2 separate regions of the Homo sapiens genome follow, and region 1 is linked to region 2. The links come from fine-mapping of genetic effects on gene expression. A gene starts in region 2. The other region holds a variant in brackets. All regions are shown on one strand. Distances are from middle to middle.

What was found. PIP is the estimated chance that this variant, and not a neighbour inherited with it, causes the effect. A credible set is the group of variants that fine-mapping cannot tell apart.
Region 1: its variant is the best candidate, but not a certain one, in a credible set for the expression of ORC3 in whole blood (TOPMed, PIP 0.60).

What each region holds. Positions count from the first base shown.
Region 1 is chr6:87,722,161-87,726,555 of GRCh38, forward strand. No RefSeq gene overlaps it. Among named protein-coding and RNA genes, the nearest start is that of AKIRIN2, 22 kb to the left of the region's middle. RefSeq lists enhancers at 2,866-2,975, 3,666-3,725. The variant A/G (reference allele first, on the strand shown) is at 1,789.
Region 2 is chr6:87,587,647-87,592,008 of GRCh38, forward strand. ORC3 (origin recognition complex subunit 3) reads left to right here and starts at 2,489. Exons shown (of 20, transcript NM_012381.4): 1 at 2,489-2,546. The coding sequence starts at 2,523. It overlaps RARS2 (arginyl-tRNA synthetase 2, mitochondrial), which reads right to left and starts at 2,341. Exons shown (of 20, transcript NM_020320.5): 1 at 2,276-2,341. The coding sequence starts at 2,311. RefSeq lists enhancers at 1,471-2,432, 2,196-2,425, 3,806-4,306, 4,307-4,362.

The DNA.
Region 1 (4,395 bases), 130 kb after region 2:
CCACACCTGGTTAGTTTTTGTATTTTTAGTAGAGACAGGGTTTCACCATGTTGGCCAGGCTCGAACTCCTGACCTCGTGATCCACGCTCCCCACCCCTCCTCCACCGCCAAAGTGCTTGGATTACAGACGTGAGCCACCACATCCAGCCGGATGCCCAGATTTTTAAAAGAAACTTGAGTAGGTTGAGAAATTAAGATCCTCACCAGGATAATTGTTACTTTTCTAAGTGTTTCCCTTTGGATCCTTCCTTTCTTCATAGGAACATACTAAACGTTCAATGCCACAATGGATTTCAATGGGGAAAAACTAATCTTGCTTTGTAGACAACTTTACAGGAATGCCTCAGTTTCATACACTGCAGGATAGTTGTATTAATTTGGCATAGATAGAAATTTCAATTAACATAGTCTTTTTTCTTTATTTGCAGCAGTTCACCAACAATGCATTTTAGAGCATTGCTCACCCTCAGCATTAGAACTGAGTGAATCTTCTGTTGAAATGGAGGCATCTATTCACCACATTACTTTTTCAAGCCTCTAACACCTTAACAGGCAAACCTCAGAGGAAGGTCTGCTTTCCTCTTCCTTTAGAAATCCCCCCTAAGCAAGAAACATTTGCTGAATGCCTAGCTGGGGACTTCAACATTGTTAGCACATGTGAGCAGCCTTCCAAAACTGTTTACAGTAATGGTAACGTTGGTAATAATACACCATTGGACTTACTGCAAAGACAATTTTTTCAATGTTTGTTCATATAAAACCTGCCAAATTGTCGATATTAGAGTTGGTCATTCCTTACATTATGAGATTCCTAAAATGAAAATAGCAGTAATAGATCCTGAGAGCTGTGAGGTCATTTTGTTCAGTTTACATATTAAGGACATGAGTCTTTGGAAGATTAGGAAAGTTGTCTATAGTTTCATGACTACGAAATGGCAGATTTTTTTTTTCCAAACCCCATGCATTTTTTTTTAATCACAACCGTGCATGCCTCTCTCAGCCCCATATCTGCCCCAGAGATGTCAAACATTCCCTCCTCCCTACCCATATACTGCCTTGGAGACTCTACCCCGCTCCTAACTTGGAAGAGAGAGTACTACCTGCCATGTGACTGTGCCCCATCAGTCTCAGTTACTGACCCAGGAGTAGACATCTGACTCAAACTGGGTTGATCGAATTCTCTCCCAGGAATTTGGAATAGGGACAAAGAGGCTGAGTCATTTAGCTGTGTGGAGCCAAGCTGCAAGGTCATGCCCAGCTGGCCTGCCACAGCAGGCCAAAACCTCATGCTAGCCACAGTGAAGGGAAGCTGAGAAACCATGAGTCAGCAGAAAAAGCTCATCTGCAAACAAAAGAGCACAAAGATGGGGCCGACTGATACTCAGAGTCAAATAGAGAGGCCATGTACCTCAAAAGGCAGAGGAGAGAGAGAGAGAGAAATAAAATCTGCATAATCCCCTTCTTGGCCCTATAATGCCCAGCAGCTGTATCTCCAGCGCTGGCTTACTGTGACCCCCATAATAACCTCTGCCTTTCAATCAACCCTCTTTTTATTTGAGTTAGTGGAATTCTGTTCCTTGCATGCAAATTCTTCCTAAGACACTTCACAATTCATATTGAATATATTTTGGGGTAGAAAGACTATTCTGCTCTTTATGACGATTATGGAAATTGAGGTTTTATCTCAAAACCCACAACAGGCTGAGCAGCTTTCGGCATTCTCGCCACTAATTATCCAGACTCCGGAGACTGAGCTTTCAAGGTGAGTGGTTTTCAGAACTGCAAATG[A/G]GAGCCAGCCCCATTCTGGGTCTCTTTCCCCAAGGATATCTTAGAGATATTCAGTTCAGGAAGAGAGGTCTTATTGTAGTATGTAGTTGCCATCTTGGGAACATATGTCAGGACTTCCTAAAGTCTTTCTGCTTAAAGTTTCCAAGAAAGTATGGAGCCTGATTTCTCATAAAGCCACTTTTCCTTTAAAGGTACTTGTGGAATCTCTATAGGCCCAAGGTTGACATGACCATATCCGTGAAAAGCTCAGGTACTATTTCTGTGCTAATCTCTTTAGAATAACAGAAAGAATTTATTTTAAAAATTCTACTTATCTTTCTCAAATTATTAGAGCTAATCCTAGTATAAAATAATGGAGAAATAGTTGAGTAAATTAGAGTGCATCAGCTGGTGGAATACTATGCAGATGTTAAAAGGGATAATTAACAAGATTAAACAACATGAAAAGACGTTTTTGATTCAATGAATGAGGAAAAAGGTAGAATACGAAATTGTAAGTATCAACCTTATAAGTATCAACCATGTGAAAATGGGTTTACATAAGGACATTTTTCTTGGTGGTCTTTTTTTTTTTTTTTTTGAGACAGAGTTTCGCTCTTGTTGCCCAGGCTGGAGTCTGGAGTGCAATGGCGTGATCTCCGCTCACCACAACCTCCACCTCCTGGGTTCAAGCGATTCTCCTGCTTCAGCCTCCTGAGTAGCTGGGATTACAGGCATGCGCCATCACACCCAGCTAATTTTGTATTTTTAGTAGAGACGGGGTTTCTCCATTTTGTCAGGCTGGTCTCAAACTCCCGACCTCAGGTGATCTGCCCGCCTCGGCGTCCCAAAATGCTGGGATTACAGGCGTAAGCCACCACACCCAGCCTCTTGGTAGTCTTTAACAAGGTAACTGAGGTTGCCACAACCATAGATCTTGGTACGTAAGATAAAATCTATTGAGCATTTCTGCCTTAGAGGATTTTGGCTAAGGTAATGTCACTGTCCTAGTTCAGTTCCAGAATTTGTTCCTATATTGTCCAGATTCTGTGCCTTTTGCTGATCTACTTCTGTGCTGGTCCATAGCACTCTCAACTGATGGGACCCACTGATTATAGAGTTCTCAGTCTCTCTGTCTGCAGTTACTTAAACTCTGGTATGGAGATCTTTTGCTTTGCACCACACAAATGTTAAGAACTACATTTAAATTGCTTTCATTTTTTTTCTGCCTACTCTTTTCCAAATCTGTGTCAAGGTGGAGATATGACTGTCCTCCAGTGTGCTAATAATGTCTGCAAAGCTTCTGGGAATACCTGCCAAAGCCAAGGTGTGAGGGAGAGACCTTGAATCTCTCCTTGCATTTGGTGGGAAAAAAACAATTTATAGATTGAGTGCCTCCTGCAAGACTTTTTTTTTGTTACAGAAAAATCCTTTTATGGCTGTTTTCTGTTCCAATCATGAACAGAAGTCTCCTTGCAAACAGAGGCCTCCTGCTGCTTTTCAAGGGTTTGGTGGCCTAATCATTTTGTGCCTGCCCTAGCAGACACTTTTTATGTTTGTGGCTTCTTATCATCTCTTAAAAGCCCTTCCAATATCAAGGGAATTTCTATATTTTGAGTTCTGTTTTTCAAGGTGAAACTAGAACTCTCTATTCTAGTCTTATTTGCGGCCAAGATGCAAGCATGTGACCTAGTTTCTGCAATCAGATGTAGCCATGCAACACTGAATGCAGAAGAAAAAACCATGAGAAAGCAGGTGTCATGCAGAATCTGTTTTCTGGTGAAGCTATGGAGCTTGCCAGTGGCACAGAAATGGCCCAGCACCAGTGTTGGTATCCCCAGCAGAGAGTTAGTGCAGCCACAGTGCCAACGCCAGCGGCGTTCTCTTCTATAACAGTCCAGCAGTATGATTTGGATATAACTTCCTGCCAAGTAGCCCAGAACATGATTCTCTGGCCCTTCCAGACAGTCTATGTGCTATCTAATACCCTTTAATACTTTCAATTTATTTTATTTTCCTTCTTTTTTTTTTTTTTGAGACGGAGTCTCACTCCGTCACCCAGGTTGGAGTACAGTGGCGTGATGTCAGCTCACTGCAACTTCTGCCTCTCTGGTTCAAGTGATTCTCCTGCCTTGGGCTCCTGAGTAGCTAGGACTACAGGCACAAGCCACCACGCCCAGCTTATTTTTTGTATTTGTAGTAGAGATGGGGTTTCACCATGTTGACCGGGCTGGTTTTGAACTCCTGACCTCAGATGATCCGCCCACCTCGGCCTCCCAAAGTGCTGGGATTACAGGCGTGAGCCACCACGCCCGGTTCATTTTATTTTTAAACTAGCAAGAGTGGATTCTGTTGTTTGCAACCAAAAATCTTTTTTTTTTTTTTTGAGACAGAGTCTCTCTCTGTCACCCAGGCTGGAGGGCAGTGGTGCGATCCTGGCTCACTGCAGCCTCTGCCTCACGGGTTCAAGCGATTATCCTGCTTCAGGCTCCTGAGTAGCTGGGACCACAGGTGCACACCACCACACCAGGCTAATTTTTTTATTTTTAGTAGATACTGGGTTTCACCATGTTGGTCAGGCTGGTCTCGAACTCCTGACTTCAGGTGATCCACCCACCTCGGCCTCCC
Region 2 (4,362 bases):
TCAACTGACTCAATTATATAATAAGGTTAATACTTCTATATCACAGGGTTGCCATGAGCTTAAATGTGAATGTGTAGTAACTAGCACAAATATATACTCAATATATTAGTTCTTGTTTCTCCAACTTATCTTTTTCTTTTTTTTGAGACAGGGACTCACTTTGTCCCCCAGGCTGAAGTGCAGCGGTGCAATCAAAGCTTGCTAGTTTCAGCCACCTGGGCCCAAACGATCCTCCCACCTCAGCTTCCCAAGCAGCTGGGACCACAGGTGTGTGCCACTACACCTAAGTTTTGTTTTTTATTTCTTTATAGAGATGGGGGTCTCCCTATGTTGCCCAGGCTGGTCTTGAACGTCTCAGTTCAAGGGATCCTCCCACCTCGGCCTCTCAAAGTTCTGGGATTACAAGTGTGAGCCACCATGCCTGGTCCAATTTACAGTCTTTACAAAGAACACAGCCTTTGCAAAACTAAACACAATTTGTTTCTCATCATGGCACTATCTTTACTTAAGGGCTAAGAATGGAAAACGTCCACCCTTACACACAGCTTAGATACTAAGGTCCAAAACTACCTTCCCTGATATGGTTTACTGTCTACATTAACATGAATTTATTATTTTTTGTCTTCATTAGCATAACTTTACTGTTCTAGAAGACTTCTGCCCAAATAACTTAATCATTCATTATAAGAACTTCATGAGAAATCTATTAGCTTTTCACGTTTTTTATTTTTATTTTTTGTTTACAGGGTCTCGCTCTGTCACCCACCCTGGAGTGCAGTGGCACAATCATAGCTCACTGTAGCTTCAAACTCGTGGGTCCGTCCAAGTGATCCTCCAGACTCAGCCTTTCAAGCAGCTAGGACTACAGAGGTGCACCATCATGCCTGGCTACTTTTTAAAAAAAATTTTGTTGAGACGGGGTCTACCTATGTTGTCCACGCTGGTCTCGAACTCCTGGGCTCAAGCCATCCTCCCACCTTGGCCTCCCAAAGTGCTGGGATTATAGGCATGAACCACATGCCAGGCCTATTAGTTCTTCCAATAGAAAACCTCAATAGTTTATGCCTTAAGGCTTCTTGCACTCTTTGCTTTTCCTATCAATCTTAAACCGCTGTATCAGATCAGAGTCCAACCCTAATCAAGCCATCTTCCTCCAACACCCTCCTACCCTCTCCCTCTGAAAGACCAGCCTTAAGCCATACCCATCAGTAAAATCTGACCTTGCTTTCCCAGTTTAATACACTACCAAAGCTCTCAGTGGTGTTCTTCCTTATCCCAGTGAGCAATAAATTCAGCTGTCTTAACAAAATGTCATGTTGGTGATATTTGGCGAATTATCACCGGACAGGGCAGTACATCTATAAACATAAAGACAAGGCAGAGGGATTTCCCCACAAATGTCTAGAAATACTGTAAAAATGAGCCAAGATAAATTATACACCAGGCTAATTACGTCCACTAGTACATCCATTAATCAGAAGGAAATGGGTTAGCCAAGACCACAATAGAAAGTTTCCTTGCAAGGGTGGCCAATGAGTCTTAAAAATTCTTTTTGATTAATTCCACATTTATACTGCAATTTTGCCCAGCGCGGTGGCTCAGGCCTGTAATCCCGGCTCTTAGGGAAGCAGAGGAGGGAGGACAGCTTGAGCCCAGGAGTTTGAGGCCTGCCTGGGCAATACGGCGAGACCCCGTTCTCCACAAAAAGGAAAAACAAAACAAAGCAATTATATTGCAATTTTGTAAGCCCTTCCTCACAACAGAGCTGTTCAAATACGACCCTGAACCAAGAAAAACTGAGTCTCAGATAGCTCTTATATCTTTGGGCGTTACCAAAAACAATTCTAGGGTAGGCTGCCTAAGTGACTGCAAGAGAAATAAGCAGCTTTAAAATGAGGTCCTTCTGAAGAACAATCCAGATCCATCATCAATGTCACTAAAGTGTAAAGAACACTAACTTCTATGGGGTCTAATCATGGTCTAATGACTTGCCGCCACCCAGGTAAAGCATTCATAGCTGTGGGGTGGGAAGGAGAGAAGAAAGCACCAGGTACCTTTCAAAGTTTACTTTTCACCGAGACAAACTGATCCCAGCCGACGCTCCACAGGACTTCTGAAGCTCCACCAGCTCCAGAGAAGGGGGAGGAGGTGGTAGAAACTAACAGGATTCCGTGGGACCCACCCTCCAGCTGACTGAGGACTGGCCCGCAGCGGTGAAAGGCCTTTGGGGTCCCTAGCTCCTCAGGGACTCCTCTGCGCGCTCCGGGATCCATACCTGGCAAGCAATAGCGCGGCGAAAGCCGCACGCCATGTCCACCTCTACGGAAGTGCGCCGCAGTCCGCCAGTTCCGGCCTCGCCCCACCTCCTTATACGACCCGCCTCCCCGCGCCGGAAACCCGCCCCGGAGGGTGATGCCAGCCAATCAAGGAGCCGTGTGGCTCGCCACTAACCTCTGCCCTGCAGCCGCGAGGGCGCGCGGGAAATCCCGAGTGCATCTGGAATACGCAGAGTCAGTAAGACCATGGCTACGTCCTCGATGTCTAAGGTATGTGGTGGCCGATGCGCACTGTGGCTCTACCGCTGCCTCATTCCCCTTTGAAGAAGGGATGAAGCCGAGGTTACGTAGGCATCCCTTCCCTGGCTGGAGAGGAGGGAGGGAGCGGCGTACTGAGCTGAGGCGTCCTTGCTCCAGATCAGTTGAGGCCAACTTTGCTTGGGGAGCGAGGACGCGGATCTGCCTTGTGGTATGGCTAGGAGGATTTTTAAGTTCTGGTTGGTGGAGGTCGGATGTCCTGATGATGTGGCCCAGTCTCTCATTTTTCCATCTCACAAATACTGTGCGCCAAGCACTCCGTTAGGTACCAAGATGCAGTGGTAAACAAAACAGATTCAGTTTCTGCAGTCAAGAAAGTCGGTAAACATAGATAAACTGACGATCACAAATTTTAAGTGTTAGCAAGGAAAAGAGTTCTAGGCAGACAACAGAAGAGTGGGAAGAACCTAATATAGGTTGTCGGGGGTTAGCGGAGGCTTTTTGGAGAAAGTGACCCTTTCGCTGAGACCTGAAAAATGAGTAGAAGTTAGGTTAAGGATTAGGGCGAGGAGGGCAGAGAGAACAGCATGTTTCTTCGGCCCAGAAGATAGAAATAAAATGGCATATTAGAGGAATTTAAAAATCATAATCAGAAAGTAGACAAAGAGTGGGAGCGTCATGAAAAATGAGAATGAAAAAGTAATGTGGATGCGGGTGTGTGTGGTGGGATATCTTATAGACCTCCTCATGTTGGCTACCTAGATGGCAAGAAATTGCAAGACATAGTGTAGTTGGTAAGAAGATAAGCCCTAGAGCTGTATTGTCCAATGTGTTAGTCACTCACCACATGTGGCTATTTAAATTTGAGTTAAAATAAAGTAAGATTAAATAAAAATTCAGTTTCTCCGTTGCACTAACCACATTTCAAGTGCTCAATCATCACATGTGGCTGCAGCTACCATTTTAGATAGTGCAGATATAGGACATTTCTATCATTACAGAAAGTTCTGTTGGACAGCGCTGTTCTGGACCACAAAAAGTAAGACCTTGAGTTCTATTGTAAGTGCAGCGGGAAGCCCCTGAAGTTAAGCTGTCTGAGAAAGCTGAAAAATGCACATGAAGAAGCTACATTCTCCCTATGTTAAAACAATGGATTGATGAAGAAGGCTATGTCATGGATCTGATTTTTTATTTTGATTAAAACGGTTTATGAGAAGCAGTGCTTTTAAAGACTACATCTCAAGGAAAAAGGACAAGCCCTGGGGTTTAAGGTTATGCTAGTAGAGATTCAAAGGTAGTATTTTTATTAGAAATGGTACTGGTTTTATTTTGTCCTGGTTATAATGTTCTGTAGGTTTTGAATGGTCTATCCCTTAATCCTGTTGATTGCATAAGCACCTCTTATTTTTATGTATCTTGCAGAAAGTAAGATTTTTCAGGAAAGCATTTTTGGTATTATAACAAATGTCTGTATTGGGATGAGACCTTACATGAATAAGAAGCTTTAAGAACTATTTCATGAATTTATGGAACTGCAAGCTTTTTTTCTTTTTCTTTTCTTTTTTTTCTTGAGACAGAGTCTTGCTCTGTTACCAGGCTGGAGTGCAGTGGCGCGATCTCGGCTCACTGCAACCTCCACCTCCCCGATTCAAGCTATTCTCCCACCTCAGCCTCCCGGGCAGTTGGGATTACAGACATGCCCCACTACACCCAGCTAATTTTGTATTTTTAGAAGAGACAGGGTTTCACCATGTTGGCCAGGCGGGTCTCGAACTCCTGACCTCGAGTGATCCGCCAGCCTCGGCCTCCCAAAGTGCTAGGATTACAG